Linked DNA regions of Homo sapiens: regions 2, 3 and 4 are each reported to be linked to region 1. Evidence: microRNA targets listed by miRTarBase, many of them from high-throughput screens and not tested one by one. Region 1 holds a microRNA gene; each other region holds the end of a gene's coding sequence.

Region 1 (8,311 bases):
TTTGGAGCAAGCTTCAGACTTTAAACATTCAAAACTGAGGTTTGTTTATTTCATTTTCTACTTACTGAAAGAAGAGTTTCTAGCCTGAACTAAAGGCCTGTGCTTTATGTACTTGAGGTACTGGAGTGCTATATGTACTAACTAAATTGTGACCCTATTTTACCACTGGTGACCCGAGTGAGGATTCAAACTTTCTTCATGTTTTTATTTTTAACATAAATATAAAAATGCTGAGCTGTAGAAAATATTGAATACACATGGATTTAACCTCAAGAAGCTCCGTAAAATTCTTAGATGACATTATAAAAACAAGAAGCAGTTAAACCTAAAGCATCCTCCTTAACATAATTTGAGAAAAATAAAATGTTCATATCTTATATAAGATACCCATAACTCCTTGTTAAAACACTAAAATGAGTAAGAAATATGCACTGACCAATTTAAAACTTTATTTTTTTTCTATTGATGATCATCAGATAACTTGGTTAAATTTGTTAAATAAAACAGATACACTAGTTAGTAATTATTGATGGGTATGCTACTTTTGGCATGACTAAAAGTTTGCTATTAAAGAGAAGGTTCCTAACAGGAAGGGCAAAACACACTAAGACATAATCAACTCAAATTAGAAAACTCTCTTCCACTGGAAAAAAAAAAAAACATAGACTTTTGGTCACCCTAACTATATGTTACAACGTTTATAGTTTAGTGCTTTTAATATGAAAAATGACTAATATTTGTATGAAACTTTTCAACAGTTATTTCAAATGTTATTCCTCAAAAAATATCAATTTGTAACAGCATTATCTTTATTTAAAAAACTCACATTCAAAGAGACTAAACTTTTTATATCTAGTAAGTCACATATCTGATAGTTGATGGAGAGAAATCTGAATGCCACTTCTTTGACAATAAATCCTGTGACCTGTCTGGTGCCCAATTAATTTGGATGCCTCTGAAGCCTTTATTTCAGACCTATTTATTATTAATTTACCCCCTAAAAACTCAAACTATTTTAATTTGCATCTAAAACCTATGACAAATTTCAAGACACTGAATATACCCAACTCTGGGAGATGTAGAGATGAGTCTGCTAAGGTCCTTCTTCAGAAAATAATTTGCTCCCCATCTTGAAAATCTGCACAGTTCTGTATCTGACAAGCACATGGCCATATACATGTGTGGCCATATGTCCCCATGTAGGGAATGTTGATAATGGGTGAATGAATGTATAGCAGTTGGACGTTTTCCTCCTTCCATTTTGAATTCCTCTCTTCCCTTCACAGTAGTTACTCCCTAATATACATCTAGCATCCCAAACTGTGTCTCAGAATCTGCTTCCATAACATCAGGACCAACTACATCATCTGTGGGGCCAGTGCAAGGAGGAATCCCAGGGACCCCTTTTAATAAAGCATCTGACTGCATGTTTTTATGTTTAATTACTCACAGCTTTCAAGCCCCATAGTGGGACAAGCCCATAAGAAAGCTGTCACTCCCTTCTTTGTCACCAGATGAGAATGATCAAACCAGGCTAATCCAGCTCCTATGCAGAGGCTCTCCTCCCAGCATGTCTGAATCACAACAGAAACCAAAGCCATATTCCCCTCATTCACTCAAGCCATTTTGAACCTGCTTGGGAGTCTACCCTGCTGTCCCCAGAAACCCTCATAATGAGAGTAATACCTTCTCATACTCTGTCTGCGCGTGTGTCAACATCTAAACCTATCCTGCCTTTTGCAGGACGCTACCAAAACACCCTTGTTCCAAAATATTAAAAGTCCCAAGACTGCAGCAGCAGAGGATTGAACCAAATGCAAGGCCATTCTTAGCGTGGGATCCTGTGTACCTATACAGGTCACAAACATGGAGCCAGCCCTAGGTAAACCCAACCTCCAGCATCAGCTATCCCTTGTCTTTTCGTTAATTTTGTGATCTCAGTTGGGGAAGCATAATTCATAGTATTCATTTTTGGGGAGTCTGTTGTAGCACTCTTATACGTACAGTTGCTTTTCCACTTTTCTCTTTTCTTGGTGTTTAACGCTGTGCTTCCACACTCGATTTTATGAGTTCTTGTAATTTCCCCAGTCTTATTACTAGCCCCTGTCTAAGAAAGCCCTCCAAGTGGAAGAGATGATTGACTTATCATTCATGTATTCCATTCCCCCAAGTATAAAGGGATATCTATCATAGTTATTTATGGCACTTATGTGTGTGCATTGTCCTACCCTCACCACCCTCCTTACACCGTCTAAATTCTACATTCTTACATACCATTTTGTGCAAACATTGCCAATAATTGTGCCCTTCTTTCACTTTATTATCCTCTCCTTGCAAAACTCTCATCAAGTTTAGTTGTATTCGCTGGTACTCTGAACCTGGACATGGCTCACTGTCTCAGTTTAAAGTCATAAACATTAGTTTCGAGACCGACGTTGCTAAAAACCAAATTCTAGTTTCATTATTGACACTTTTCTTTCTCTCATAACATATATCTGATCAGCTATCAAATTATTTTACTTTAATTTCAAAACATATCAAATTTGGCTTTCAATATCCAAAATGATCCCCTGATTCAATCCACTCTCATCTTTTGATGGGATGATCTTTAAAGCTCCTTAACTAGTCTCTCTGCTTCATCTCTTTAACCCCATTAGCAGATTTTAAGTCCAGACGTCAGTTATAATTTTTAAGCCTAAGTAGACTTATGTCCCTTCTTTTTTGAAATATTCATATGGCCTTCATCTCACAAATTAAAAAAGGTGAAAGTTTCTGCAAGAGCCTAAAGGTAACATGTAACCTGGAGCCCAATACTTTTTTGAACAAATATGCAAATACTCTAACTTTCTTTCCTTCTTTCCAACCACTCACTTTCACATTGCTCCTCAAACAAGCCAAGCATGCTCTTGCCTCAGAGTCTTTGTACTTGCCTGCTCTTCCTGGGGTACCTGATACCCTTGAGTAATGCTTGCCAATCTTTGGTCAAATGTCACTTTCTCAAAGAGTCCTTCTAAGATCACTCAAATTAAGATAGTAACCCTTTTTCTGATTCCTAATCATCAATTCCCATATTACTCCTGAGTTTTCCTCTTGCTTGTAGTATTTTAAAGTTTCTATCATTAGTATCTATAGTTACTTATATATAGTATCTATATATACTATAGAGAGAGACATTGGAATAGAGGTAAACTTATTTATTCTGTCTATTGTATGTCTCTCCTGTCAGTGGAATAAAAGTTTCATGATAGCAAGAATCTTTACATGTCCGGAGCACAGCAAATACTCAATAAATAATTATGAATTAATTAATCAAGGTATAACTACTGATAGGGCTCTTATAAAATATTCTTAAAGCTTTTTACAAGTTCTAACAATCTAAGACACAATTGACATTATATTAGTGACTTGTTAAAGATTCCTTGCAAGGACAAATGCAAAGATTGAAGTATATATGAATGACTGAAGAGGTAGAAAATGCAAATAATGTTTGAAATATGAAAAAATACATGTTAATAAAATAATTCAAAGTGCAGACATTTTATAAGCAGATGATATGTAATACTTTCAAGACCAATATAAAGCTAAGTGGAAAACAACAACATAGTCTGAATTTGGTGAAAAATACGGGCCAAAATACTGATGGGTTACAATTGGTCCATCATGGCTTTGGCTTGTCATGATCCTAGGATATTAGCTGAGAAGGCAGCTTGTGATTTCTTCAGGAAGCTACTCTAACTTACGAGATGTATGTGTATGCCTGTGTATGTATGTGTGTTTAAACAAGGAGTGGGCAATTTATTGCAAAGTGAAATGGATAATTTTGCACTTTTGTTATTAGGTTAAGAGGCCAAATCTAGTCCACTTTTTAGAAATACCTCCTCTCGTTTCATGTTGTTTAAGCTTTCTTCTTAATGTTTTGGCAGGGGTACGGAAAGGCTGTAGTCAAATTTGTCATAGTTTGATATTAAAATATGGGTGCATTAACCTTACAATGACCTTTTCCCTGAACTTATTCCTAGAAAAAAAGATGCTGCATCTTTTGTAAGTAACTTCAAGGCAAGATATCATACAGCATTCAAATATAAGCTTTTATCCAGTTAATCATCAAGCATTACCTACTTTCATCAATGTTCAGGAGCTTAATTCCAGGATTACTTATTCCAAAAAAAAGCTAAATACAAAAATCAGAAGCACAGACCCAAACAATAGAACTTTTATACCATGATAATTAGAAAAGGAACCTATTACCCAGGATTATAATTAGTGACTAACATATTAAATGACCTTTAACATTTACCTTAAGCCCTGGATTTCTGGAAAACCAGCAAGGTTATGAATGCCATATTAGTGATCTTTAATCTTTATTACTGCTGTGGACAGAATTTTAATGATTTTTAAATAGGCAGTGGTCACTAACATATCCCTATTAAAATAAAAAAAAACTCATAAAAAATTAAATGGATTAAGACTTCAAATGTACCATCATCAAAAGTATTATCTAATTATGGAGTTCAGTGAACAGGCCAAGTGAAATGGTTGGTAATATTAGTTACTTGCCACATGGGAATGCCCAGGATTTATGCACAAATAGATTCTGCTTCTGTTGCAACACAGTAATTAAGAATTTGTCAGGGAAATTTGACCCTCTAGGGTAGAAATTACTTTGTAAAATAAGAATGGCAGAGCACTAGTCTCCTTGCTGCACATAATTTAACTTGATTATTTATACATCAAAGAGAGTCTGCAGTGACTGCAGTATAATATTTAAGTAGAGGGATATTAAAGAAAGAAGCACCTAGTGAAATCTTTTTTCCAAATCTCCGTGAGAAAATAGAAGAAATTTTCATAAAGCATTTCATTTTGCATATAAATTGGAGCCTAGATTGTGCCTGTGAATTTACTGCTGTCAAATTTAATTTTTCTTTAATTCTTCAGACCCAGATGTGAAAGGCTCTGTGTGCAGGCTGCAATTTTCAATGCTTACAGGTAGCTCCCGGATCGATAATGTGTCTTTATGAGAAATTACCATTAATGTTATTGAGTATGCATTTTGTTTTGTAGGATAATAAGGTAATATGAAATGCCAATTCATTCATTAGAAGAGAGCTAAGTGCTTAAATGAAATGGGTGACAGGTCTGAAAAAGAGATGTAGTAATGGGCAGGAAGGCAAGAATGGATTTTTAATGACCTAATATGTAAAAGTTAACCATGTTTTTGCATTTTCTCTTTATACATGATGTAATCTATAATATAAAGAAGTTTATTTAAATTGGAGAATGTGTCTTGGCTAAAAACCCTCTGCAAAAGTGAATAAATAGATATCAACTAGGTTTCAGAACATTTTTCTAATGAGTTAGTTTTACTGAGAACACAGCACCTAAATCAATTAAAAACAAACATTGCCATATGAAATCAATGCTATAAAAATCATCAGTTAATATTAGAATGTCACAAACAAGACCAAATTTGATATATATTTAAGATCTCTGTTTTTGAAGTATGGTGATAAGAAAAACTAATCCTGAACTTAATGCAAGGGCACAATGCAAGAACAGAACATTTGGGAAACTATGTTCAAAGTCATTGGAGATTAGACTAAAAAATGACTTTAAAAAATCAGTTAAACTGAATGTGAATGTTAGCATCGCTATTAATAACTTTTTATTTTGCCACTTAGGAAAACAAGTTTCACACCTTCTTCAGTAAAATAGTTCTGATTCAGCCCTGTGCTGTTAAGCTGAGGGGCATTCTAATTATCTAGAAAGTTGGATGGACTCGTTAATTTGATGCCTGTGATTTTATAAAGCACCAGTAGGCACTCTACAAGAAAAGCTTTGAGTAACTCAGTTCAACAAGGCTTTTGGAAAAAATACAAACAAACATATCTATGCTATTACATAATTTGAACTCAAATTACTTGCTTCTGACATCTTATTTAACTATATGTAATTCTGAAACCAATTTAAACTCATTGGTGGGCTGAACACAGTTTTATGAACAAAATGTTATTAGGCCAAATATCTTCAAAATGAAAAGGACACTAACATCTTTGAAGATGTTCCCAAATCAAACACTTAGGTCCAAAACAACCAATCAGGAATATTCAGTTATAAACAAAACAAAGTAAATAGAACAAATGATTATCAAAATTATGTTGATTCTCTTATAAATTAAAACAGTATAAACTTGAATAAAGCAAAAATGCATCCCTATTTCATTACTTGAGAAGTCAAATTGTGCAGGATGATATGGACTAATAAAAGTACAGAAGCTCTGAAGTCAGAAAACCTGTGGTCAAATCCCAGCTCTCATACCCACTAGTGGTTTAAACATAAATTATGTAACCTCTCCAAATCACTTGCTTTGTCATAAAATGGACACAAAAATACCTAACTCATCACAGCCGACAGCCATACGTTGAAGTTGAACTGAAATCTGTCTATATCTGAACCTTAAGTGCTGATGTCGCACGCTTTAAGCACTGATGTCTCAGGTTTTAAGCACAACCTCTTGTCTTGATCACTCTCACTTATCTGGCCATAAACAGCTTTACAGAAACAACCAGTTCTGGATTCCACCCCACCTCCCTCTTTCAGCTGAGCTAGACATTTCCAGGCTTGATGTCTTCGCTCCTCAGCCTGGGTCCTGTTGTTGCTGATTATCTGAACTATTTTGTCAATAACCTCAATGCCTTACATCCTTACCTTTACAGACATCTGACAGATAAAATGTCAATCTTGAGTTAATTCCATTATCCACTTTCTCTACTCTAATGCAGAGGCTTGACGCTGCTAGAGAAATGCCATCATTTAAACATTCATATGTCCACAAATTTGTACATTCGATCCTAGTCAATTTCTCAGGTCTTTGGCCTTCTCAATCAGTTGTTCCTTCCACTTCTTTCAGCAATTGTTCTACCTTTATTCTCAAGGCTTCTCCACTCTCTCAACCTTACTCTTAATAAACAAACTTCTATATTATTAGGGAATCTGATTTCATAAAACATGAATTACTGGCTCTTCTGTCCCCCTCACCTTCTGATTTTCTATACCCACCCTTACCTTCTGAGAGGATTATATACTTCTCTTCTTTATGACCAACCATCAAGCAGACATCTGTTCTTTATTTTCTAAATGTCCTTCAGAGCTTTGTTTCATCCGTTGCAATTGTTTCTTCCCTTACCATGGTTTTTCCTTTATCTTGGCTTTACCCTTGCTTTCAAACACATATAATCTTTCTAAGCAATCCCTTATCCCAGGAAAGAATAGAATTAGAAATACATTTACTTGAAAGTTAAACTGTTTTATTTGTGTTGATTCCTCTCTTCCCTTTACCTGCACTTTTCTTGAAATAAGATACTTTTTCCTTACTTCCCATTCATTTTTTAATAGCCTGTAACTTTTTTCACTGTCTCTATCATTTCCCTGAAACTATTTTATCAGAGTAGCCAGTGATTTCCTAATTACCCACTGGAATTTAAAAGAAAAAACCTTAACCTACTAGAAAAGTGACAATATCAGTCTGTTTTTGGTTTTTGTTTGTTTTTGTAATCAAGAAACAAAATTTTTTGACTTTTTTTTTCCCTCAATCTCCAATGAGTTCTGCCCTTCTGCCCACTCCTTAAATGTTCCTCAAGATTGATCTCTGGTTATTCTCACTCCACACACACTCCATGGAGATCCCTTTTCCAATTTTCTAGTTTCAGCTGCAAACTAATGTTTATGACTCCCCTTTGTGTATTTCTAGTACCAATATCTGCAATGAAGTTCAGATATCTATATCCAACTGCCTGCTAAATATTTTCAAAACTGTCTCAAAATTGTCATAAGTTTGCTTTTCCCCATTAATTGTTCCTGCCTGTGTAATACTTGCCTCTCATAAAACCATTGTCCAAATATAAATATGGGCTGTAAATATCATTTTCTTTTCCTTACTCCAACTTCCAGGTAATCGCCTACTAAATTTATCACTAAGTTGTTTATACATATATAACCTTTCCTCAAACCACACTGTCATTCTCCTAGTTTAGATCCTCCTCATTCCCAATTTAACTAATGGGTGCTAGTTGTAGTCTTTGCCTGTGGTATTTCTTCCTCCAATTTTACAAAGTTACCATTAATATCCCATATAAAATAAGATCTGGACGGGTGTGGTGGCTCGTACCTGTAATCACAGCATTTTGGAAGGCCGAGGCTGGAGGATTGCTTGAGTCCAGGAGTTTGAGACCAGCCTGAGCAACATGGTGAAACCCCATCTCAAAAAATACAAAAATTGGTCCAAGCATGGTGGCTCACACCTGTAATCTCAGCA
Region 2 (8,311 bases), not on the chromosome of region 1:
CACAGGCGTGAGCCACCGCTGCCTAGGGTCCAGAATTTTAAGCAACCAAAAGCAGGGACGATGTTAGGCTGGGGCCATGAGGCAAATTGGAATCCAGGAGACGTCCTGTCGCCAGCCCTCTGTCCCTCCATCCTAGGAAGACTGCCCGACCTCTGTGGGGAGAGTGACATGCTGCTGGTGACTTTTGCAAAGTAGCCAAGGCTGTTTGCCGGTTGGTTTCTTCTGACCTTGGCGGGAACTGTCTCAGTTAAGCTGGAGGTCACAGCAGGCAGGAGAAGGGCCGTGAGCACTGTCCGGACGTCCTCATGATTGTTTATGCTTTCTTGGTGTGCAGATTCCTTTGGCTGCCGCAATATTTTCCGCAAAACCTCAGATTCCAATTGTGTGGCTTCTTCTTCCATGGAGTTCATCCCCGTGCCACCGCCCAGGACCCCGAGGATTGTGAAGAAACCGGAGCCCCATCAGCCAGGGCCCGGAAGCACTGGCATCCCCCACAAGGAAGACCCCCTGATGCTGGACATGGTGCGCTCCTTCGAGTCTGTGGATCGCGACGACCACGTAGAAGTGCTGTCTCCCTCTCATCACTACAGGATTCTGAACTCCCCGGTCAGCTTGGCTCGCAGAAATTCCAGCGAGAGGACGCTGTCCCCGGGTCTGCCATCCGGAAGCATGTCGCCTCTCCATACTCCTTTGCATCCAACTCTGGTCTCTTTTGCTCACGAAGATAAGAACAGCCCCCCAAAAGAGGAGGGCCTGTGTTGCCCACCTCCGGTTCCCAGCAATGGCCCCATGCAGCCTCTGGGGAGCCCCAATTGTGTGAAAAGCCGAGGCCGGTTCCCTATGATGGGCATCGGACAGATGTTAAGGAAGCGCCATCAGAGTCTGCAGCCATCTGCAGATAGGCCCCTGGAGGCCAGCCTGCCCCCACTGCAGCCCCTAGCCCCTGTGAACCTTGCCTTTGACATGGCCGATGGGGTCAAGACCCAGTGCTAACTTGGGCCAGCGGGGTTTGGGGTATCTCTAGAAAACAGCAACTGAACAGAGCTCCACACATCTGTCAGGGTGTGAGCACTCCAAGGCCTCGCGTGGAGCATCCTTAGTCCCACCTGTAGCTGAATCCACAGACCCAAAGCCTGCACAACCCAACCTCGCTTAGGGACCCCCAGAGATGCTGGAATCGCTAGGAGGGTTGGCTCCAGGGGCAGCCAATTCCTATCATTCAGATCTTCCTTCCTCCCAAGTACTCACCAACCCCTTCCACTTCCCACTTCCCCCAGGCTTGGGGGGAAAACAGGGCATGAGCCTTCTGGGGCACTCAGATTATGGACTGTTACCAGATCTTTCTTCACGCTGTGCTACATGTGTGCCTCTCACAGCAGTTGGCCACAGTTACAGGGAGAGAACAATATCACAGTCATTCATCCAGGCCACGTTTCCTCTGCGGAGTGTAGCAGCCCTGCCTTTCATAGCAGGGATTACCTGAAGGCCAGCAGGAGCCGGGGGCAGGCCCAGGATCCTCAGAGGAAGATGGAGAGGAGCTTCGGACCAAGATCAAACCAAACAGTGGGGACCCCAACAGAAGAGAAAGACTGAAGGAGACACTCATTTCCCAAGCAAGATTTTGATAGATTTTTGTTGTTGTTGTTGTTGAAACATGCTAATGATTGAATTATCTTTTCCAAAGATTTTTTTTAAATGTGATGTCGGTAAATTGAAATAACATAATTTTTTAAAACTTGGATGGAGAGATGAGAAGCAATTCCACCAAACTCATGTTTTCACAGGAGGGTTCAGTGTGGAGAGCAAAAAAGCTGACTGTGGTGATTTGCTGAGTGCTGTGGCCCACAGGCAGGGCAAGTCTCGGTGGCCCTGTGTTCATCCTGTTGTTTAAGGCATAGCCCTGATCCTTCTGGAAGGCATAGAACACGGTTACAGCTGGTTCTGTAGAAAGAGGGAAAAGATGATTGTGACAATTCAGAGCATAACTCAGATGGCGAGAAGGCAGCATTATCTCTGTGCGATGCTGATTTCAAGCTGCCCACAGAACTGGTGCGGCTCAGAGCTCGGCGAGTTTGCTGGGAGCTGGGAGCAGGCTTGCCTGGCAGAGAACCTGTTCAGATACAGGCCAGTTTCTTCTTCGAGGAAAGCCAAGCTCCTCAAACAGGGTTCAGTCCACGTTGTGTTTTCACACCTTTCTCCAAGGATCGAACCAAAGATGTGTCTCCAGTATTGTGTCTGTGCCCCTGTGTGTGTTTTGTGGACAGCCGTGTTGTCTGACTGTATCCAGCTGGCACTTGACAGGGTGCAGTCATTGGTGAGAAGAATCAGAAAAAGAAGACCCATCAGCACAGGTTGGATAGGGGTTAGTGTAGGAGACCAGTTACAGAATGGCCTGGAGTCTTCAACTTTTGACCGGTGCAGGTGTGACCAGAGACCACCTCTGTGGCCACCTCAGATAGTCATCTCAGTCCAAGGATCCCAAAACACAAATCTAGAATTGCAAAGCCAGCCTTTATTTCCCTGGCAGGCAGCCTTGCCAGAAGGCAGAGAGGCAGTTCTGAATCATTCTCTCATTCACCAGTGGTGACATCCTTCAGTCCCTCACATCTCTGACAGAGCGGGACAGAATGGATATTTGGCTGACCTTGGTGAGACCTGGAGCTGCCTGTTTCTTCCCTAGGGGATCACCACGGCTCTAGGGCATTCTAGGATGAGGTCAGACCCCTTGGCCATTGGTGTTATTTTTTGTATAGCTTCAGACTGGGTTCCAGAACTTACCATTGAAAACAGAGCTTTTAGGCCAGGTGTGGTGGCTCACACCTGTAATCCCAGCACTTTGGGAGGCCGAGGCAGGTGGATCGCTTGAGCTCAGGAGTTCGAGAGCAGCCTGGGCAACATGGTGAAAGCCCGTCTCTACCGAAAAATACAAAAAAAAATAGCTGGGTGTGGTGGTACGTGCCTGTAGTCCCAGCTACTTCGGGGACTGAGGTGGGAGGATCACTTGAACCTAGGAGGTCGAGGCTGCAGTGAGCCAAGATCATGCTACTGCACTCCAGCTTAGGTGGCAAAGTGAGACCCTGTCTCCAAAAAAAGAAAATAGAGCTTTATAAGCAGAGAGAAGAAAATAATCATCTAAGACCATCTCTCCATTCGACATGAAGTGTACCTTTTCTAAAGACGGTTTCCAGCTGCAACGGCTCCACTTTGCAGGCTTGCAGGGTGTATACCTGCGCATTGGGAACTTGCTGGAACCCCTGATGCATTTTCCTTGAGAGCAGGGGTACTTCCGCCTTGCCGTTAGCTTGTGGAGAACGTGCTTCTTATTCCTGGCAGGCTTCAAGAACAGCTGCACATGTGCCGCTAACTGACCGCGTTGCCATTGGCGACCTGGACTCTGAACTCAGGTTTATTCTAAACCCAGTGAGAGGTGAGGGGGAGTGATGAAAGGGGATCAGCTGTATTTGTGTGTGTGTGTGTGTGTGAGCACCTGACAAATCTATGAAACCGAGTGAAAGGAGAAATGTTAGATTCTTTATTATTTTATTATATTTATATGGAAAGCTCGACTCTCCCTTTGGTAAGTCCGAAGCATGTTGTCTGTTCGACCGTGACTGTCTTCCTCAGTCTGTGCCTGTGATTCCAGTCACCCTGTAGTTACTGACAGAAATTGACTGGACTGTCATTGTGTGAAGTCTAGGAGGAAATGTCCATTTTAATTGTATGATTTGGTCATAAGTAAGGACTATATTTATGTCACCATTATTAGATATATGTACTTTTGTAATGACTGTGAAATACACTTTTCCCTCACTACGACTGCTTCTTTATTTGCTGATAAATCTTAAAACAACTAAGTACGTTGCAAATAATAGTACAGGTACCATCTTTTATGTGAAGTTCTTTTTCTTTTTTTGAGACAGGGTCTTGCTCTGTCACCCAGGCTGGAGTGCAGTGGCACAATCACAGTTCACTGCAGCCTCAACCTCTCCAGATTCAAGTGATCCTCCCATCTCAGCCTCCCAAGTAGCTGGGACTACAGTTGTGCACCACAATGCCTAGCTAATTTTTTTTGTATTTTGTAGAAATGGGGTTTCGCCATGTTGCTCAGGCTGATCTCAAACTCCTGGGCTCCAACGATCTGCCCACCTTGGCCTCCCAAAGTGCTGAGATTACAGGCGTGAGCCACTGTGCCTGGCCTTATGTAAAGCTCTTGACCTAGCATCTGACTGGAAACAAGCGGGAATTGCATTGGGGGGCATTTTCTGGGCCAGTTTCCCTGCCTTATTTTACCTGCAATAGGTGTGCCTACAAAAGTCTTTCTGACATACACACTGCAGGTGGCAGTTCAAGAAGAATCAACCTTTTTCATTTGGGGATATTAGGATCTTCCTTGGAGACTCTGAAAATGGCACACAAAGAATGGCAGTTATGAACGTGACTTCTAGATTTTGTCCTTGTAGGAGGCCTTGGTCATGGATAGGGGAAGAGGGATGATGGGATGGAATGGGAGGGTGGGATCTAGATGACCTCTTGAAATTGTCCCAGTTACTGCTTCCTTCATAACTGTTCACAAAACGTTTTTCATATATACCACCTTGTTTCCCCTGGGAAGTGAGGGGACGAAGCCTTAGAGGGTGACATAGCTAGAAAGTGGAGAAGCTCACTGTTCACTGTGCAAAGCCCCAGTAGTCGGATTCCGGGGAAAAGAACAAGTATCTAGTTTTGATGACAATGTTTTCTTGTAAGAATCCCAACACTTTAGAATAGAAAAGGACCTAAGATTCTCTGGCTCAGCCCCAGCCTTTCTGAAGAAGGGAAAACTAGGGACCCAGATGGTTTAAGGACACCCCAGAGTCCCCAGATGAGCTGGCATTTGAGCTGGTCTGGAGCAGAGTTTCTCCCTCAAAGAACACAGAGAAATCAGAGAGTGGCTGCCATGGTCAGAGGGGGATGTCAACAACAGATCAAGCCGTCATCACAACAGGTATTTCTGAAGTTCCTGCAGGGACTAGGTCTTGCATTTTTAAGTCCTTTTCAAAACTGTGCAGCTTCCTGAACCTTATGCTGTTTGTCCCATCCACTCTTGAAGCTGGGGAAAGACAGCTTTCTTTGGGAACTCTGTCTTTCTCAGTTGACTTCCCAAGTAAGCAGCAAACCCCTGGATAGCCTTGTTATCTACTTTAGGTATTAAGAGGCTATTGGGTTTTACTAGATTAAATCAATAAAACATTTCCTATAGAGCCATATCATACACTGAAGCAAATTCAGAAAGAATGCAAAACTGCTATCTTTTGGGGGAGTCTGGAAGCCTGTTGGTTAGTGTATTTATTTTCTTTGTGGGGTCTTCTGTGAGCTACAGGCACAGTAAGAATAATTCAGAGCGGTACTGGGAGTTGGTTCAATTTCATGTCATCACTTTTCAATGAAGGGAGTGCATTTCCTGAGTAGTAAATGAGTATATTATTTGTGGCAGCTTTTCTGTTAAGGGAGCTTTCCAGACATCTGGTTGCAAAGACAAATAGGATATATATTTGTACTTCTTCTCTGTGGACATGTTTTTGTGACACACAGTTATCTCTAGGAGTTGACGTCTGTGGGCACTAAGGGACTGAGGTTGGGGGAGAAAGCTGAGGAGGCTTTGGAAGAGAAGGTGAGGAGCATTTCAGGATTTGCAGTCCCCCTCCACATGTATCCACATCTGAGCTGGTGGTGTTCCAATAATGAGGCATTTGGGGCAACCAATTTTGGAAGGATAGAATAGCTTTATGTGGAGCAAACTTGAGGATCAATTGGAGTTGAGTGGTTTAAAACTTAAAGATGGCACAGGAAGCTGTATCATTTACAGGTGAAAAAAATAAATGGGTCTGACTTCAGGGCCTCAGCTCTTTGTATTTCCTACTTGGAAGATGGGCTATTAGCAATTTTGAAAGCAAAGGCTTTGGTTTACATTTAAACTCTATAATTTTTTTTAAAAATGTGTTCTTTCTAGTCTTGTTACCATAGCCAGCTGGAAAGGGCAAATTGCAAGCCTATATTGGGAACAAGTCTTCTTGCCGAAAGTAGGGCAGTGAAGTTCTTGGCAGATCTGAGATGAGAATGCCTTCCCCTGACTCCTTCATCAGTGTTCAGTGCTCACCTCCTCTGGCAACCAGTATGCTAGAAGATTAGGCTTTGCTATGATCACAAATTAATTCCAAATCTCTGTGACTTGCCCAATAAAGGTTTATTTCTTAAAATATTTTTATGAGGCTGGGCTGACCACAAAACGGCTGTCTTCCATATGGTGACTCAGGGATCCAGGCTACATCCAACTTGTGGCTGTGTCCCCTCAAAATGAAACGTCTTTGGCTGCTCCAGCACAGGAAGGCACGGCTGGAGAGTTTTCCACCAGCCCTTAAACATTCTATGAGGGGACTCATCACTTCTCCCACAGCCCATTGACTGGAACTGGTCACACTGCCTTGTCTGTGAGCAAGAGGCTGGGAAATACAGGAGCATAGGGCTACTTGGGATGCAGCTAATGTTTCTCCCATCTTAGGGAAGGTACAGCTGCCTGCCATTTATTTGTTCTTTGTTTTTGTTTTTGCTTTTGTTTTGAGATGGAGTCTCCCTCTGTCACCCAGGCTGGAATGCAGTGGCGCAATCTCGGTTCACTGCAACCTCCACCTCCTGGGTTCAAGCGATTCTTGTGCCTCAGCCTCCTGAGTAGCTGAGACTATAGGCACATGCCACCATGCCCAGCTAATGTTTGTATTTTTAGTAGAGACGAGGGTTTCACCGTGTTGGCCAGGCCGGTCTTGGACTCCTGACCTCAAGTGATATGCCCGCCTTGGACTCCCAAAGTTCCAGGATTACAGGCATGAGCCACCGTGCCTGGCCGAGATGCCTACCATTTAAAGGTACCCCAAAACTGGACTAGCCTTTTCCCATTGTCACACAATTATAGCACCTCTTAGTAAAGAGTTACTTTTTTAAAATAAAAGAATTAGCATTGGTAAATGTTAATATTTAAGGAGAGTGTTTTGGGCTGAATTCTTTCCTCCACAAATTCATATGTTGAAACCCTCAGCCCCAGTACCTCAGAATGTGACTACTTAGAGATAGGGCATTTAAAGAGGTGAGTAAGTTAAAATGAAGCCTTTAGGGAGGAACCTAATCAAATCTGACAAGTGCCCTTATAAAAATGTGAGGTCTGGGCTGGGCGTGGTGGCTCATGCCTGTAATCCCAGCACTTTGAGAGGCTGAGGTGGGCGGATCATGAGGTCAGGTGTTTGAGACCAGCCTGGCCAACATAGTGGAACCCCGTCTCTACTAAAAATACAAAAAATTAGCTGGGCGTGGTGGCAGGTGCCTGTAATCCCAGCTACTTGGGAGGCTGAGGCAGGAGAATCGCTTGAAGCTGGGAGGCAGAGGTTGCAGTGAGCCAAGATCGCGCCACTGGCACTCCAGCCTGGGCGACAGTGCGAGACTCCATCTCAAAAAAAACAAAAAAACAAAAACAAAAAAAAATGTGAGATATGGATACACAATGGGACACCAGACGGAGGAAAGACCAGGTGAGGACACAGAGAAGGCAGCCTCAGGAGTGAAGCTTCAAGACGAACCAGCTCTGCTAAAACCTTGATCTCAGACTTCCATCCTCCAGAACTGGGAGGATATAAATGTCTGTTGCTTAGATCCCGGTGAGGTATTTCATTACAGTAGCCCAGGCCGACTAACACGGGGAAAAGGTCAGATAGTAAAATTTACATCTTCTAGGAATCTCATATGTTTTGCCCCATATGCCAAATTTCCATTTATCCTTTTCTGACTAAATCACTCCCAGAAAATTTCTCTTTTTTGGAGTGAAATTCCACCCTCTCCTCTCCTCTCCTTTTCTTTTCTTTCCTTTTCGAAGCAGAGTCTCACTCTGTCACCCAGGCTGGAGTGCAGTGGCGCGATCTCGGCTCACTGCAACCTCTGCCTCCTGGGTTCAAGCAATTCTGCTTCAATCTCCTGAGTAGCTGGAACTACAGGCATCCGCCGCCACACCCAGCTAATTTTTTGTATTTTAGTAGAGACGGGGTTTCACCATGTTGCCTAGGCTGGTCTTGAACTCCTGAGCTCAGGCAATCCGCCTGCCTTGGTCTCTCAAAGTGCTAGGATTACAGGCGTGAGCCTCTGTGCCCAGCCTGAAATTCCACCTTTTCTAAGTGTTTCTTGTGCTTTAAGCTCAGTGTGCCAATTATTTTCAAGTTTCTTTCTTCCTTTAATCCAGAGGTCTGCAAACTTTTTCTGTTAAGGACCAGAAAATAAATATTTTAGGCTTAGG
Region 3 (8,311 bases), not on the chromosome of region 1:
GCCCATGTTTTGCTCATGCAGATACAAGTCGTGATGATCACGGATACTTGAGTGTGTGTGTGTAATTAATAATGGCATTGCCAGTTCCCCAATTTATCCTGGGCAAGGCAACTATACACTTGAACACAGAAAACATCCACAGTAAGTGGCTGTGTGCTCGTGACCAAAGGCGAGAACTTCTCCGCTTGGTCCACTTATGGTTCAAAGTTATGGAAGAAGAATGTGGGTCTTTCAAGGAATTCTGAGCTCTACTTGTATTGCTGATGAAAAATTGCATATGAAATATAAAGCAGTGTCATTTTTTGGTAACTCATGCTTATGTTTCTTTCACAATAAACGTTTAACATTTTCAGATGAATTTGCAAATGTTTTTCTTTTGCTTTGCTGTAAGATCAAGTAAATGTGTTATGGAGGTTATAAACTATAATAATATAAATTGACCCCCAAAATTAATTCACTTACTAAATGACAAGGAAACACTGCCTGTTAAACTGATAAAAGTATCTGCCTGTATTTGTTCAGTTTTACCCAACAACTGGAAAACACACATTCATCTCCAGTATACATTGAACATTCGCTAGCATAGACAGATGTGGCCATAAGACAAATCACATTGACATGAAAATTGAAATAATATACACGCTGTTCTCAAATGCCAACAGAATTAAATTATAAATCAGTAACAAGAAGAAATCTGTAAAATCTCCACATACATGAAAATTAAACAACCACTTTAAAATAAAACACAAATCAAAGGTGAACTTATAAAGGAAATTATAAAATACCTTACACTGAGTGAAAGTAAATGCACAATATCACAAAATGTGCAGATGTAGTTGAGGTTTAGAGGGAAATTTATAGAAATAGACACTTATAAAATCAAGGAAAATACCCTCATCCATGATCTAGCTTCCTTTTTTTTTTTTTTTTTTTTTTTTTGAGACAGAGTCTTGCTCTGTCGCCCAGGCTGGAGTGCAGTGGCGCGATCTCGGCTCACTGCAAGCTCCGCCTCCCGGGTTCACGCCATTCTCCTGCCTCAGCCTCCCAAGTAGCTGGGACCACAGGCGCCCGCCACTACGTCTGGTTAATTTTGTGTATTTTTGTTTTTTTTTAGTAGAGACAGGGTTTCAGCATGTTAGCCAGGATGGTCTCGATCTCCTGACCTCGTGATCCGCCCGCCTCAGCCTCCCAAAGTGCTGGGATTACAGGAGCAAGCCACCGTGCCCGGCCGGTCTAGCTTCCATTTTTAAGTGAGCAAATGCAGTGGCAAATTAGGTAAAAAACAAAACAAAACAAAGACTACAGTAGTAGTCAATGAAATAGAAAATGGATAAATGTTAAATAAAATTTTAAAAATTCAAGACACGTTTTTTCAGGATCAAAGTAGTAAATCTTCAGCTACAGTGAAGGAGTGAGGAAGGGGTGAATTAAAACAATGAGTAAGCAAGAGAAAAGGAAGACAGGGCAAAATCAAGAGAGGCAGAGAAAGAAGAGACAGAGCCCATCGTGATGGCTCAAGCCTGTAATCCCAGCACTTCGGGAGGCCGAGAAGGGAGGATTGCTTGGACTCAGGAGTTTGAGACCAGCCTAGGCAACAAAGCAAAACCCCATCTCTACAAAAATAATAATAAAAAAATTAGCTGGGTGTGTTGGTTTGCACCTGTGGTTTCAGCCACTTAGGAGGCTGAGGTGGGAGGATTGCTTGAGCCCCAGGAAGTTGAGGCTGCAGGGAGCCATGAGCCATGATCATGCCACTGCACTCCAGCCTGGGCTACAGAGTGAGACCCTATCTTCAAAAACAGAAAAGAAAATGTAACATATATACACAATGGAATAGTATTATCCATAGAAAAGAAGAAAGTTCTGTCATTTGCATCTACAGAAATGAACCTGGAATACACTATGCTTAGTGAAACATACAGCCACAGAAAGAGAGATATCACGTGATCTCATTCACTTGGAGAATTTTAAAAAGTGATCTCACAGAACTAGAGAGCAAGACCGGATGCAGTGGCTGACACCTGTAATCCCAGCACTTTGGGAGGCCGAGGCGGGCGGGTCACCTGAGGTCAGTTCAAGACCAGCCCGGCCAACATGGTGAAACCCCGTCTCTACTAAAAATACAAGAACTAGCCAGGCATGGTGGTGCACGCCTGTAATCCCAGCTACTCGGGAGGCTGAGGCAAGAGAATCGCTTGAACCCGGGAGGTGGAGGTTACAGTGAGCTGAGATTGCACCATTGCACTCCAGCCTGGGGTACAGAGTGAAATTCCGTCTCAAAAAAAGAAGGAAAAAAAAGAACTAGAGAGCAAAATGGGGTTACCAGGGGCCGGGGCTGGGGCTGGGGCTGGGGCTGGGGCAGTGAGGTGGGAGGGTTAGGGAATGGTTGGCCAAGATACACACAATTTCAGCTAGACAGGAGAAATAAATACAACATGGCAACAATAGTTAATAATAATATTCTTGAAAAATGCTAAGGGAGGCAATTTTCAGTGTTTTCATAAAAAACATGACAACTTTTCGAGGAAATGCATATATTACCTAACTAGATTTACCCGTTTGGTAACGCATCTACATTGCAAAACACCATGACATACACAATCATTACATACAATTATTCTGATAATTTAAACAAAACAAGAATCAAACTTTACATGCTCAAGATGTTCCGTTTTACCTCAGTGAGATCTCAAAAAAATTTTTTAATAAAAAATAGTTCTGTTGAAACTCTCTTGTGAATTTTCCTTTCAGTTGTTGTACTTTATTGCCCCTAAATTGCTCACTGGTTCCTTCTTAAACTTTCTCTTTATTCATGTTCTCTATTTGATGAGGAGTTATTCCTCTGGTTTATTTTTGTTCTTCTGCCCTTGATTTTCTTGAGTTCTTTGCACATATTTAAGATAATTAATTTAGTATTTGGAGAGGAAGCCCAATGTCTTGGCTTGCTCATATGCTATTTTTTCTTACGACTATTATACTGTCTTGTGTGTGTGCCTCATTGTTTTGGTAAGAAAAAGTGGACACTGTGTGTGGCAAACCCTGGACATCAAATTCTCACCCCTGAGCAGGCTTTCTTGTTGCTGCTGGTTGTGAGTTGGAGTCTTCTGTTTTTGTTTTCATTTTTTGTTTTGTTTGAACCTTTGTAAACTACTGTGTAAAGGTTTCACTTTCTCCTGTGTGGCCACTGAAGTCTCTGCCTTCTGGTCTACTAACAATTTGATGGAGATTTTTAAAACATGCCTGAACGCAAACCCAAAATTCTCTCAAGCTCTTTGCCATGGGATCCCTCTAGGGAGCTTAGCCAGGATTTTGATTTTTTTTTTTTTTTTTAGACGGAGTCTAGCTCTGTCGCCCAGGCTGGAGGGCAGTGGCGCGATCTCGGCTCACTGCAACCTCCACCTCCCAGGTTCACTAGCCAGGATTTTTACAACTCTCATTTCAGCCTTCATTTCCTGCTTGCATGGAGCCTCGGGATCATCAGAGGTAAAACATAGGGTTTCTCAGATTTTTATAATCTTGCATGGACATGTATGATTGAACTCAATCCTTGGTATACCTCAGTGCTATTCAAAGCCCTTACTATCTCATGTAATTCTCCCCCCAGACTCTTCCTTAATAGGCTTTTCATTCTGTCATCTGTTTTCCCTGTTATCCCTCACCCAGGCAACTTCAGCAAGTGTATTTGTCTTTAAGTGCTTTTAATGACACTGGCACCCCCCAATAAATCAGCTTCAGTCTGTGTAGATCTAAAAAGGGTGAAATAAAGGCAAGCCCTTGAGCCAACCCTTCAAGGAACCACTAAGATAGATGGAGGCACACAACCACAATTCTTTGAGAACAAAGATTCTTCATCCTGTGGCATCAGCGTGCTGGCCTGGGAATGAGGGACTCCATGTTCTCAGCAGCCATCAAGCTGCAGAGTGGGGAAGAGTAGGTGGGTGAGTCAAATTACCACAACTCAGCTGGGTGCAGTGGCTCACGCCTGTAATCCCCGCGCTTTAGGAGGCCGAAACGGGCGGATCACCAGGTCAGGAGATCCAGACCACCCTGGCCAACATGGTGAAACCCCATCTCCACTAAAGATACAAAAATTAGCTGGGCGTGGTGGTGGGTGCCTGTAATCCCAGCTACTCGGGAGGCTGAGGCAGGAGAATCGCTTGAACCCGGAAGAAGGGGCTTGCAGTGAGTCGAGATCATGCCACTGCACTCTGGCCTGGTGATAGAACAAGATTCCACAAAAAAAAAAAAAAAAAAAAAGCCACAACTCTCTTCCTGAAATTAAGCAGCTTCTTCCTTCACTCACGGTTCCCCTGGAGGTTGTAAATTATTAGATTCAAATTTTCCACAAAGGCTGATTTTGACAGTTATTTCCCAGTTTAATTTTTGTTTTACCAAAGACTACTTTTAAAATTCCCTACCTTGAAACTTGCAGTGAGATCACTCCATTAATTTTAAACAGAATTTTAAAATTCTGATATTATTGCTCTATATGCTCTAAATAGGGCTTTTGTCTATTTGTAGGAATGCTTCCTCTCAGTGCAAATTATCTAGAATAAAGAAGGGAAGTCTGTTTCTCCAAGGAGAGGCACAGGAGGCAGGGCTATATAGGTAACCTGGATGACAAATTACAATATGCCATGGAGTATGTGGACATTGAAGATATGCAATATTGAGGTGGGAAGATGGCTTCAATGACTTCAGAATTTTCAGTCATGGGAAAACAAGAGGTTTCCTTAAATTGTGATAGCCTGGCCGGGTGCAGTGGCTCACACCTGTAATCCCAGCACTTTCAGAGGCTGAGTTGGACGGATCACTCAAGACCAGCCTAGGCAATATGGTGAGACCCCTTCTCTACTAAAAGTACAAAAAATTAGGGGGGTATGGTTGCATGCATCTGTGGTCTCAGCTACTGGGGAGGTTGAGGTGGGAGAATCACTTGAGCTCAGGAAGTCGAGGCTGCAGTGAGTTGTGATCGTGCCACTGCATGCCAGCCTGGGCGACAGAGTGAGATCCTGTCTCAAAAAAAAATTATCTTATTTTAGAAACATGTCAGAAAAATCAAAGAACAAGCCCAGTTGAAACTACAGTAAGATCCTTTGATTCACCTTCAAGGTTTCTTTCCACAGCTGATTATGACTTGATTCTGAAATCAGAGTTTTGAAAAGGAACATAGAAAACACTTTTAGCCAGTTATTCTGCTAATCATCAGAATCTTCACATCATGTCCAGAAGTTGCATTTATCAGAAGTGGCTGAGGAGGTTTTGCATTGGGAATCAAATATTCTCATCAGAGAAGCCCCAGACTCACTGAGGCAATGTCACTGAGAGATACTACAGATGACATGATCGTGACATCTCTGTGGGGAGATCAGGTCCAGGAGCCTGTCTCTAACTAAGGACTCAGGTGCCCCAGCTTATGGTGACTGACACATCCCTGTACAGAGCTTGTTGCCAAGACCACCCCAGTGAGTGCTTCTGTACATTTAGAGCAAAAGGCAGAACATAAAGATCTCAAACAGGAGAAGAGCTCAGAGCTGAGGGTGAGCAATAGCATTGGGCAAAATAGGTTTACCCCTGCCTGGCTCTGAGCCACACCATCCATGCCCCGGCTGGACCAAGACAGTGGCACATTAAGCCAGGTGCTTGGCTTGAGCTCCTGGCTCAATGTGGGACCAGAAAGCTCAGGTTTACTGTATACCCCTGTGTCCTAGAAACACTGTCAAAGGGAGAAATTAGGACAGTTCTCCTTAGAAACTGAGCCAAGGATCACTTGAGGTCAGGCGATCCAGACCACCCTGGCCAACATGGTGAAACCCCATTTCCACTAAAAATACAAAAATTAGCTGGGCATGGTGGTGGGCGCCTGTAGTCCCAGCTACTCAGGAGGCTGAGGCAGGAGAATCACTTGAACCCGGGAGGCAGAAGGCTGCAGTGAGCTGAGATCACACCACTGCACTCCAGCCTGGGCAGCAGAGCGAGACTCCATCTCAAACAAAAAAAAAAAAATTTTTTTTTCAGCACGTAAAGACCCTAAAACCTACCCACCTTGAGTAGGTATCCTCTCACCTATGGAGGCCTATTAGGTACAGCAACCAGATGCTTAGCAATGGGGCATTGTAAATACAGTGTCAGGGTTGGAAACATTATCAGAGGATGCCCAGTTCAACTCCCTCTTCTGAAAGAAGGTGAAAAGGAGACGCTTTTTCTGAGGCCACACATATCTGACATTTCTCCACAGCTTAGAGAAGTCACCCTTCATCCCATGGAACACACACAAGTTTGTGAGCGGAGCTGGCTAAGAGCAGGGGAGATACGGAAATGAATGCCAGTTACGGTGTTAGGTAGATCCGGGAAGAACATGGTGCAGCAGGAATACGAAGTCAGGAGGGAAGGTGAGATGAGGATTTCATTTCGAAGGATTCCTAGGGACACCTTCTAACAACTCTCCCTAGACCAAAACAAAAACAAAAACAAAAACAAAAACAAAACCCAGAAAAACAAAAACAAGAAACAAACCATGAAAGGATCATAGTTTCTTTAGTGTTACTCCACCGTGCCCACTGATGAAACAATCATGCTTCACAGCTTTTTCCAATGCATTTTATCCTTTATTACTTCATATAATCCTTTTAATACTCTTGAGACAGTGTAGGAATTTGAAGTGGTTGACTGGATCAAGGTCACACACACACACACACACACACACACACACACACACACACACACATCAAATAGGAAAATTATAGTCCTAATTCTCTTGCATCCCAGTCACGGTAGTAATTTATAATAAATACTGTTTACGTACAACATGATCAAAGGGGTTGCCTAGATGCTGTATTTGACGTTCTCATGGCTGCAGACATTCTGGGAAATTTGAAAAACATGTAATCCAAATTAGAATTAGGTATTATTGAACCTGGCTGAGAAGCAGGTGTCACACCAATTTCTCTGCCTTCCTTTAAAGACCAAGTTTCAGACAGAAAGATCAAACTGGGTTTTCTTTCCTTTACAGTCATCAGCAACTGCTGGGTTTGTGTGTTCAGGCCAGTTAATGGAAGCCTGAAGGAAAACAGAGAGAGAACGCCGTTAATGCTACATGTGAGGTCTCAGCTTTGTTGCATCAATGACTAATTCCCCATATGGCATCCTTTGGGTATTCTTGGGAGTATCTCAAGCCATCTCTGAGGAAACAAAAATCTGTTCCAGACTGAAAACCGTGAGATAGCGATTTCTCCATTAAATATTAGAATGTAAGACAAGATTTCCACTGGGAGAACTGTTTGAAGTAATATTAGTAGTAACCAACGCCACTACGTGCTCAATGCTTTACATGCATCTCACATTACATCCTCACAATGGGTAATGGCATTCAAGACTTTATAGGTTCCAATACTGAGGGTCAAAGTTTCCAACTAAAATATGTTTACAGGCTGGACGCAGTCCAGTCCCACGTCTAATCCCAGCACTTTGGGAGGCTGAGGCAGGCAGATCACTTGAGCTCAGGAGTTTGAGACCAGCCTGGACAACATGCCAAAACCCCATCTCTACCAAAGATACAAAAACTTAGCCGGGTGTGGTGGTGCGTGCCTGTGGTCCCAGCTATTTGGGAGGCTGAGGTGGATTACTTGCACCTGGGAGGTCAAGGCTGCAGTGAGCCATGATCACACCACTGCTCTCCAGCCTGAGTGACAGAGCAAGACCCTAACTAGAAAAAAAAAAAATTTACATAGCTAGAGAACAGAGGCACACTTACACCGCAGCCCATGCTCATGTTTCTTTCTCCAAATCAAAGAGGAGGATTCAGCCACTTATTTTGTGCCCTCTCTGCATGTGAGTGTCCCAATTAGCATGTAGGCACAAATACCTTTATAACCTGAAATATGGTCATTTCTGCAGTTTAGTTTTTTTTGAGCACCTATAATACTGAAGGAAAAATATCCCTGGCATCATGGAGCTCATGTTCTAGTGGAAGGAATTAGATAATAGAATAAATACATTATACATTTGAAGGTGAGAAGAGCCCTGGGGAGGAAAAATAAAGAGAATAAGCAATTTGGAAAATTTGTAATGTTTATGGGTTTTTCTATGCATCTGAAAGTTTGACTCAATATCCATATTTATGAAAAAATTATCACTTAGAGATGACAAGGGAAAACAACTCATAGTAGGGTCTCCAGCATAGAGTCTGTGATCTCATTTAATCTTTAAGAGTTCTGAGATAATTATCACCATTTTCCATTTGAGAAAAATTGGACATGAGTGGGAAATGAGTTGCCCCTCCTGTATTTTATTAATGGGTCATCCGGATGCT
Region 4 (8,311 bases), not on the chromosome of region 1:
CATGTCCTTGCTTAGTTGCTTACAGGAAGCTTACCATGCACGGTGTCGTCGTTACTCTGTCTACCCAGGTCCAATCTGTAATTGTGAAGGTGGCTCCACGAACAGACGCATTGTCTCCTGACCCAGCCTCTGCCCCTAGGTCTCCCATGCAGAATATCCCGAGTCCAAGGACCAGGATAGAAAGAAATTGCAAACCCAAGAATTTGAGATACAGAAAATAGCAACACAGAGGCAATATTTTTATCTATGGTTTTTCACAGAAATGGTAATATTCTTTTTTCCATGTTGTCCTTTACTAACAGGCCCTTTTGTGTGCTGGATTTCTTTCAGGCGACAAAGGAAAACCTAAGACCACAGAACCTACCACTTGTGAGCCAGCCTTGTCAGAGGGAATCTCACTTCAGGGACAAGTGACACAAGGAAACTCAGTGGACTCACAGTTGGGGCAAGCCGAGGATCAGGATGGGCTATCAGAAATGCAGGAAGGACACTTCAGACCAGGAATAGATCCCCAGGAGAAGTCTCCTGGGAAGATGAGCCCTGAATGTGATGGTTTAGGGACAGCTGATGGTGTGTGTTCAAGGATTGGACAGGAGCAAGTCTCTCCAGGAGATAGAGTCCGTAGCCATAACTCATGTGAGTCAGGTAAAGATCCCATGATTCAGGAAGAGGAAAATAACTTTAAATGCAGTGAATGTGGAAAAGTATTTAACAAGAAACACCTCCTTGCTGGACATGAGAAAATTCACTCTGGAGTTAAGCCCTATGAATGCACAGAATGTGGGAAAACCTTTATTAAGAGCACACATCTCCTGCAACATCACATGATCCACACTGGGGAGAGGCCCTATGAGTGCATGGAGTGTGGAAAGGCCTTCAACCGCAAGTCATACCTTACCCAGCACCAGCGGATTCACAGTGGAGAGAAGCCTTACAAGTGCAATGAATGCGGAAAGGCCTTCACCCACCGCTCCAATTTTGTCTTGCATAACAGGAGACACACTGGAGAAAAATCCTTTGTGTGCACAGAATGTGGCCAAGTCTTTCGACATAGGCCAGGCTTTCTCCGGCACTATGTTGTCCACAGTGGTGAGAATCCCTATGAGTGCTTGGAGTGTGGCAAGGTCTTCAAACACAGGTCATATCTCATGTGGCACCAGCAGACTCATACCGGGGAGAAGCCCTATGAGTGCAGTGAATGTGGGAAGGTCTTCTTGGAGAGTGCAGCCCTGATTCACCACTATGTCATCCACACTGGAGAGAAGCCCTTTGAGTGCCTCGAGTGTGGGAAGGCTTTCAACCACCGATCCTACCTCAAGAGGCACCAGCGGATTCACACTGGGGAGAAGCCCTTCGTGTGCAGTGAATGTGGAAAGGCCTTCACCCACTGCTCTACTTTTATCTTGCATAAAAGGGCCCACACTGGAGAAAAGCCTTTCGAGTGCAAAGAGTGTGGGAAAGCCTTTAGCAATCGGAAGGACCTCATTCGCCACTTCAGCATCCACACTGGAGAGAAGCCCTATGAGTGCGTGGAGTGTGGAAAGGCCTTCACCCGCATGTCGGGCCTCACGAGGCACAAGCGGATTCATAGTGGAGAGAAGCCCTATGAATGTGTTGAGTGTGGGAAATCGTTTTGCTGGAGCACAAACCTCATTCGACATGCCATTATCCACACTGGAGAGAAGCCCTATAAATGTAGTGAATGTGGAAAGGCCTTCAGTCGCAGCTCGTCCCTCACTCAGCATCAAAGGATGCATACTGGGAAAAATCCCATCAGTGTAACAGATGTGGGAAGACCTTTTACAAGTGGACAAACCTCAGTTACCCTTCGAGAACTTCTTTTAGGGAAGGACTTTTTGAATGTAACCACTGAGGCAAATATTTTGCCAGAGGAAACATCTTCCTCTGCATCTGATCAACCATACCAAAGAGAAACCCCACAAGTGTCTTCACTGTGAGAAAACCTTCTGTTGCTGAATATTACTTGTCATCTGAAGAGTCATATTAGAAATTCGTTCAGTCTAGAGCCTTATTCTCCATCTGATAATTTATCCTGGAGAGAGACCCAGTGGTTATTGTGCACATAGGAGAACCTTCAGCTGCATCTTTCTCCTTAGTTTACAGTGCAATTTTATCTCAGGAATTATTTTTAAAAGGAGGAGGGGACATAGAAAAAATGAAATGCAAGCACACATCTTTTCAGGCTTCTCTGCCAAGCCTATGGCGCTTTGTCATGGATTTCTTAGTGTATTTGGGGGAAGGGAAATGTTTCAAGGTAAAGAACCTTGACCCTTTATGTGCTTGTATGTACATTTATTGCTATCCAGTGTCAGAACAGTTAGTTTAGGAAAAGTATGCAAACTTTAATCGCACATCTTCTGTATTCCACAATAGTACTTACTCTTGAGAAGCATAACTTTATGACAACTTAGGGGGCTTGAGCCATGAAATACTCACGTTTAAGTCAGTAAGGATACACATGTTAACATTCAGGCTTTTGTCTTGATGCCCGTCTTTTGGTTTACGTCATCATTGTAGCCATATGGTAAATTTTTATTTGTTAAATTTTTAAAAATTACTTAGCTCAAAATGTCAGTGGTAAATTTTTAAATTGAGTAAAGTGATTCTTCTTTGCTCTTATTTAAAATCGACAGCATTTCTAGTTCCTTTGACATTCCATATAATTTTTAGGATTAGTTTGTACTTATTTACAAAACAGTCTTGTTCAGATTTTTACAGAAATTGAGTTAAGTCTGTGGATTAATCTGTTAAGAATTGGTATCTTTACTATGTTGGGTCTTGTAGTTCATGAGTGCAGGAGTAGGCCTCTTAATTTATAATAGTTAAGCATTCCTTAAAGTATTTCATTAATGTTAAAAATTTTCAGCGTATAGATCCCTATGCATTTTTGTTAGAATTTGCATCCTAGGGTGCTTTTTTGTTTGTGTGTGTGTGTAATTTGAGTGATTGTAAATGGCATTGATGTTTGAACTTTGAATTGCACACAATTTTTGGTAGTATACAGAAATATAATATTTTTGGACATTGTTTTGCTACCCTGCAACCTTATTGAGTTCACTTATTATTTTTAGCTATTTCTTTCGACAGAATCCTTGGAATTTTCTATATAGAAATGTCATCTGCAAATACAGACCATTTTTTATCTTTCATCTTACCTGTAATATACCTTTTATTTCCTTTTTGTTTGTCTTATTGCATTGCACAAGCTGGGACTTCCATTATAGCGTTGAATAGGAATAGTGAGAAAGGCCATCCTTACCTGGTTCCTGATAGTAGGGGGGACAATGTTCAGTTTTTTGTTTTTTTGTTTTTTGTTTGAGACAGGGTCTCGCTCTGTCACCCAGGCTGGAGTGCAGTGGCACGATCTTGTCTCACCATAGCCTTAAGTTCCTGGGCTCAAGTGATCCCCCCACCTCAGCCCTCACCACCCCCCAGTAGCTGGTACTACAAGCATGCACCACCAGTCCCAGCTAATTTTTGTATTTTTTGGTAGAGACAGGGTTTCACCATGGTGCCCAGGCTGGTCTTGAACTCCTGGGCTCAAGCAACCTGCTTGCCTGGGTCTCCCAAAGTGCTGGGATTACAGGCGTGAGCCACAGTGCACAGCATGTTCAGTTTTTCATCATGAAGTATAATGTAAGTTTTATAAAACATATGTCCTCTATAAGGGTAAAAAATTTCCTCTGTTCCCAGTTTTCTGAGACTCTGTGTTGCTATGAATAAGTGTGGAATTTTGTTCAGTACTTTTTCTCCACCAGTTGATGTCATTATGCTATTTTCCTTCTACATCCTATTGATGGAATGTATTGCTTTGATCAAGTTTTGAATATTGAGCCAGCCTTGCATCCTTAGAATAAACCATACTTGTTTGTAGAGTATAATTGTTTTTATATATCATTTGACATCATTCCCTTTGTTTGTATTTTGTTGAGGAAATATTCCTCTAATTTATTGGCTAATAATGTGTAGTTCTTTTTTCTTTTGTTTCTTATGTTCTAAATGTCTTATGTGTGGTTTTGATGTCTAGGTGATCTTGACCTTTCAACATGAATTGGAAGGAGTTCTCTTCTAATTTTTGGAAGACTGTGTAGAATTGGTGTTATTTGTTCTTGTCATGTTTGATGACCTCTAGTCAACCATTGGGCCAGAGATTTTTCTTCTGGAGGCTTTTAAATTACATATTTATTTTATTGGATAGGTAGAACTATTCGAAGTATCTATTTCTTGTGTAATAAATTTTGATAGTCTGTCCTGTTGAAGGAATATTTCATCTGTATTTGTAGCACTCCCTTATTCTTTTGATAGCAGGATCTGCACTTCTTTTTATTTTTAATATTTAAAATGTGCATACTCATTTTATGATTGAGTCTTCTTAGACATTTATCAGTTTTATTGCGCATCATGCTGAAAGATGTAATTTTTGCTTCATCTCTCACTTCAGAGAACTAGCACTTTATATTAATGATTTGTCTCTATTCTTGATTTCTTTGATTTCTGCTCTGATCGGTATTATATTCCACTTGCTTTGGTTGTATTTGGCTCTTTCTAACTTTTCAAGGTGGGGTTTTAGATTATTGATTTGAGATTTTTTTGCTTTTTTAATGTAAGCATTACATTGTATAAATTTACCTCATATCACTATTGGTTTGATCCCACAAGTTTTAATGTTTTCATTACATTTTAATTCTAATAGTTTTTATTTTTTGAGACATTCTCTCTTAGCCATGAATTATTTAATAGTATGCTTAATTTTCTGGTGTTTGGCATATTTGTTACTGATTTCTAATTTGTTCCATGTTTGATCTGACTGTTTAAATGTGTTAACATTTTTTTATGACCCAGGATAGGGTCTATCTTGTTTCGTATAGCTGCTTGAAAAGAATGGGTGTTCTGCTGTTACTGGGTGGAGTTTCTATAAATGTCTCTATGATCCTGCTCATTGTTATTCAAGTCAGCTATGTCCTTGCTGATTTTCTGTCCAGCATTTCTGTCAGTTGCTGAGAGGGGTGTTGAAGTCCTGAACATAGGCCGGGTGCAGTGGCTCACGCCTGTAATCCTAGCACTTTGAGACCACTAAGGCAGGTGGATCACCTGAGGCCAGGAGTTCGAGACCAGCCTGGCCAACATGGCAAAACCCTGTCTACTAAAAATACAAAAATTAGCCAGGCATGGTGGCGTGTGCCTGTAATCCCAGCTGCTGGGGGGCTGAGGCAGGAGGATCAGTTGAACGTGGGAGGCAGAGGTTGCAGTGAGCTGAGATCTCACCACTGCACTCCAGCCTGGGCAACAGAGCGAGACTCTGTCTCAACAACAACAACAAAAAGTCCTGAACATGATTGTGGAAGTGTGTTGCTCTTTCAAGTTCTATCACTTTTTGTTTGCAAAGTTCAAAGCTGTATTGTTTGGTACATATACATGTAGGTTTGCCAAGTCTTTGTGGTGAATTGACTCTTCTGTCATTATGTGATGTCATTTTTTTGCCTTTTAATAGTCTTGTCAATACTTTACCTGATGTTCTCATAGTGACTCCTGCATATTTTGATTAATGTTTGCATGGTTAATATTTCTTCATTTTATTTTAAAGCTTACCTGTATCATTACTTATGAAGTCAGTTTCTTTGAACAGCATATACTCAGGCCATGCTTTTTTTATTCATTCTGCATATGTCTCTCTTAATTGGTATGTTGAAATGATTTACATTAAAATAATTATTGATATTTTAGGGCTTAAGTGTGCCCTTAAATGATTTTTGTGTTCTTTTTTATTGTTCCTCTGTTATTTGGGGTTGTTTACTAGTCTTCCTATAGGTTACTTCACCTTTTTTTTTTTTAATAATTTGATTTGATACATATGTAGTGTTTTTTAGTATAGATCCTCCTTGACTTATGATGGGGTTATGTCACAATAAACCCATTGCAAGTTGAAAATACTATGTCAAATATGCATTTAATACACCTACCCTGCTGAACATCATAGCCGATCTTGCCTTCAGAATGCTCAGAAAATTTACATTAGCCTGCAGTTGGGCAAAATCATCTAACACAAGGCCTACTTTATAATAAAGTTACTGCAAAGAATTTTAAATAAAAATTCAAGTGTGGTTTCTACTGAATGCATGTCGCATTCGCACCATTGTAAAGTCAAGTAGTAAGTCGAACCATCCTAAGTCAGGGACTGTCTGTATATATCTGCATTTTTTAGTGATTGTTCTACTATTACAGTGTAAATATATAACTTATGACAGTTTAATAAGTTATCAGCAATTTAGCACTTTACTTCCATTAGGTTCCTTTAGCTTACCTACTAATGTAACTATCTTAAGTAATAGTAATTCCTCTTCAAAAATTGAGCGCTATGTTGCAAGATGTAATTTTTCTTTTCCTTTTTTTTGAGACCAAGTCTCACTCTGTCACCCACGCTGGAGTGCTGTGATGCGATCTCGGCTCTCTGCAACCTCTGCCTCCCGGGTTCAAGCAATTAACTGCCTCAGCTTCCCTAGTAATGGATTACAGGCGCCCGCCACCACGCCTGGCTAATTTTTGTATTTTTAGTAGAGACGGGGTTTCACCATCTTGGCCAGGTTGGTCTTGAACTCTTGACCTCATGATCCACCCGCCTCGGCCCCCCAAAGTGCTGGGGTTACAGGTGTGAGCCACTGCACCCGGCCACAAGATGTAATTTTTACTTTATCTCTCACACGTATTTTACAAAACGTCATGAGAAACATTGTCTCTTGACCTTTTTTTTTTTTTTTTTTTTTTAAAGAGACAGAGTCTCACTCTGTCACCCAGGCTGGAGTGCAGTGGCACGATCTTGGCTCACTGCAACCTCCGCCTCCTGGGTTCAAGCGATTCTCCTGCCTCAGCCTCCTGAGTAGCTGGGATTACAGGTGTGCGCCGCCACACCCAGCTAATTTTGTATTTTTAGTAGAGACGGGGTTTCACCATGTTGCTCAGGCTGGTCTCAAACTCCTGACCTTGTGATCCGCCAACCTTGGCCTGTCGACCTCTTTACCCATTCCATTGTTCATTCTTCTTTCTTGAAATCCCAAACCTTCTATTAACATTTCTTTTCAGTTATACACTGAACTTTACTGTAGCCTTTCTTCTAGAGTAACAAATGTTCTTTGTTTTCCTTCCTCTAAAGATGTCTTTATGTTTCCTTCATTCCCAAAGAATATTTTTGTGGAATATAAGATTCAGAGTTGGCAGTTGTTTTCTTTTAGACTTCAGAGATGTATCTCTCTGTTCTGTACATTATTGTTTAATATAAGAAACCTACTAGCATTCAAATAATCATTCCCTATTTTACAATGCATCAGTTCTGTCAAGCTTCATTCAAAGTGTTTTTCATTGTCTCTAGTGTTCAGAAGTTTGGCTGTGATGTGCGTGGCATGGAAGTTTTTGGGTGTATTCTATTTGGCGCTCCCTGGTGCTTGCCCAGCTTTTTGATCTGTAGGATTATGCCTTTTGCAAAATTTGGGGAACTTTCAACTATTATTTCTTCAAATATTTTTTCACCCCCCAGTCTTGTCTTTTTTAGGGACTTCAATAACATGAGTGGCAGATCTTGTTTTACACTCCCATGGGTCCTTCAGGCTCTCATCTTTTTTCTTTTTCCAGTCTATTTTCTGTCTTGTTAATATTGATTAATTTTTATTGACCTTCCATGGTCCTCACTGATTGTTTTCTTTGTCATACCTAATCTGTTGAGTTTGTGCAGTGAGTTTTCATTTTGGTTTTGTATTTTCCAGTTGTTTAATTTCCATTGGGTGGGTTCTTTTGTACACCTTCTGTTTCTTTGCTTATTTTTTAACGCCAAAGAAAGACTCTCAGAGAATAGACAACTATATTCCAAAGTCATGGTTCTCTGGTGGTTTGTCTTGACATTTGAATAGAAATGTTAAACTATCTGGGGGAATAGAAAGCCCACAGTCTTCTGAGTTGTGCTACACCAATATTTCTATGAACAGATCTTACAACTGAGAGTGATCTGCAGATTTTTCAGAGTCATGTTCTCCATGGAATGTTTGTAAAATTCCCTAGCTCTCTGCACTGAGCTGAGATCGTGCCACTGCACTCCAGCCTGGGCAACAGAGCGAGACTCCATCTCAAAAAAAAAAAAAATTCTCTAGCTCTCTATGCCTTGTTGTATCCTCAGGAAGGAGTCACCTCTCTTCCAGGATCACTCTTGCCTTTTGTTATTGGACACATTTTCCTACCTCCTGCCCAGTCTTTTTTAGGCTCTCTGTCATACTTCCTCGCCTAGTCTTTAACTTGTCTCTGATAA

Evidence for each region. The annotated mature microRNA hsa-miR-3974 reads AAAGGUCAUUGUAAGGUUAAUGC and lies in region 1 at 3,978-4,000, opposite strand. An mRNA with a match to its seed (bases 2 to 7 or 8) in the 3' UTR can be bound and repressed. Matches are read on the target gene's strand: a 7mer-m8 pairs with bases 2 to 8, a 7mer-A1 pairs with bases 2 to 7 and ends in A, and an 8mer does both.
Region 2: the mRNA of HUNK is a reported target of hsa-miR-3974. Seed matches in the 3' UTR shown: 7mer-m8 at 2,641-2,647.
Region 3: miRTarBase lists NLRP11 as a target of hsa-miR-3974. Seed matches in the 3' UTR shown: 7mer-m8 at 6,677-6,683.
Region 4: miRTarBase lists ZNF264 as a target of hsa-miR-3974. Seed matches in the 3' UTR shown: 7mer-m8 at 4,056-4,062, 7mer-m8 at 6,757-6,763, 7mer-m8 at 6,995-7,001 and 7mer-m8 at 7,682-7,688.

The regions. Positions count from the first base shown.
Region 1 is chr12:17,668,997-17,677,307 of GRCh38, reverse strand. MIR3974 (microRNA 3974) reads right to left here and starts at 4,009; the gene lies at 3,914-4,009. All of the region lies in intron 1 of LOC124902889 (a long non-coding RNA gene), which reads right to left. RefSeq lists an enhancer at 3,907-5,387.
Region 2 is chr21:31,998,192-32,006,502 of GRCh38, forward strand. HUNK (hormonally up-regulated Neu-associated kinase) reads left to right here. Exons shown (of 11, transcript NM_014586.2): 11 at 335-5,873. The coding sequence ends at 993. Among named protein-coding and RNA genes, the nearest start is that of LINC00159, 84 kb to the right of the region's middle.
Region 3 is chr19:55,778,813-55,787,123 of GRCh38, forward strand. NLRP11 (NLR family pyrin domain containing 11) reads right to left here. Exons shown (of 10, transcript NM_001394894.2): 10 at 6,587-7,059. The coding sequence ends at 6,813. It also overlaps the pseudogene RFPL4AP1. Among named protein-coding and RNA genes, the nearest start is that of RFPL4AL1, 14 kb to the left of the region's middle.
Region 4 is chr19:57,211,024-57,219,334 of GRCh38, forward strand. ZNF264 (zinc finger protein 264) reads left to right here. Exons shown (of 4, transcript NM_003417.5): 4 at 331-8,311. The coding sequence ends at 1,958. Among named protein-coding and RNA genes, the nearest start is that of AURKC, 16 kb to the right of the region's middle.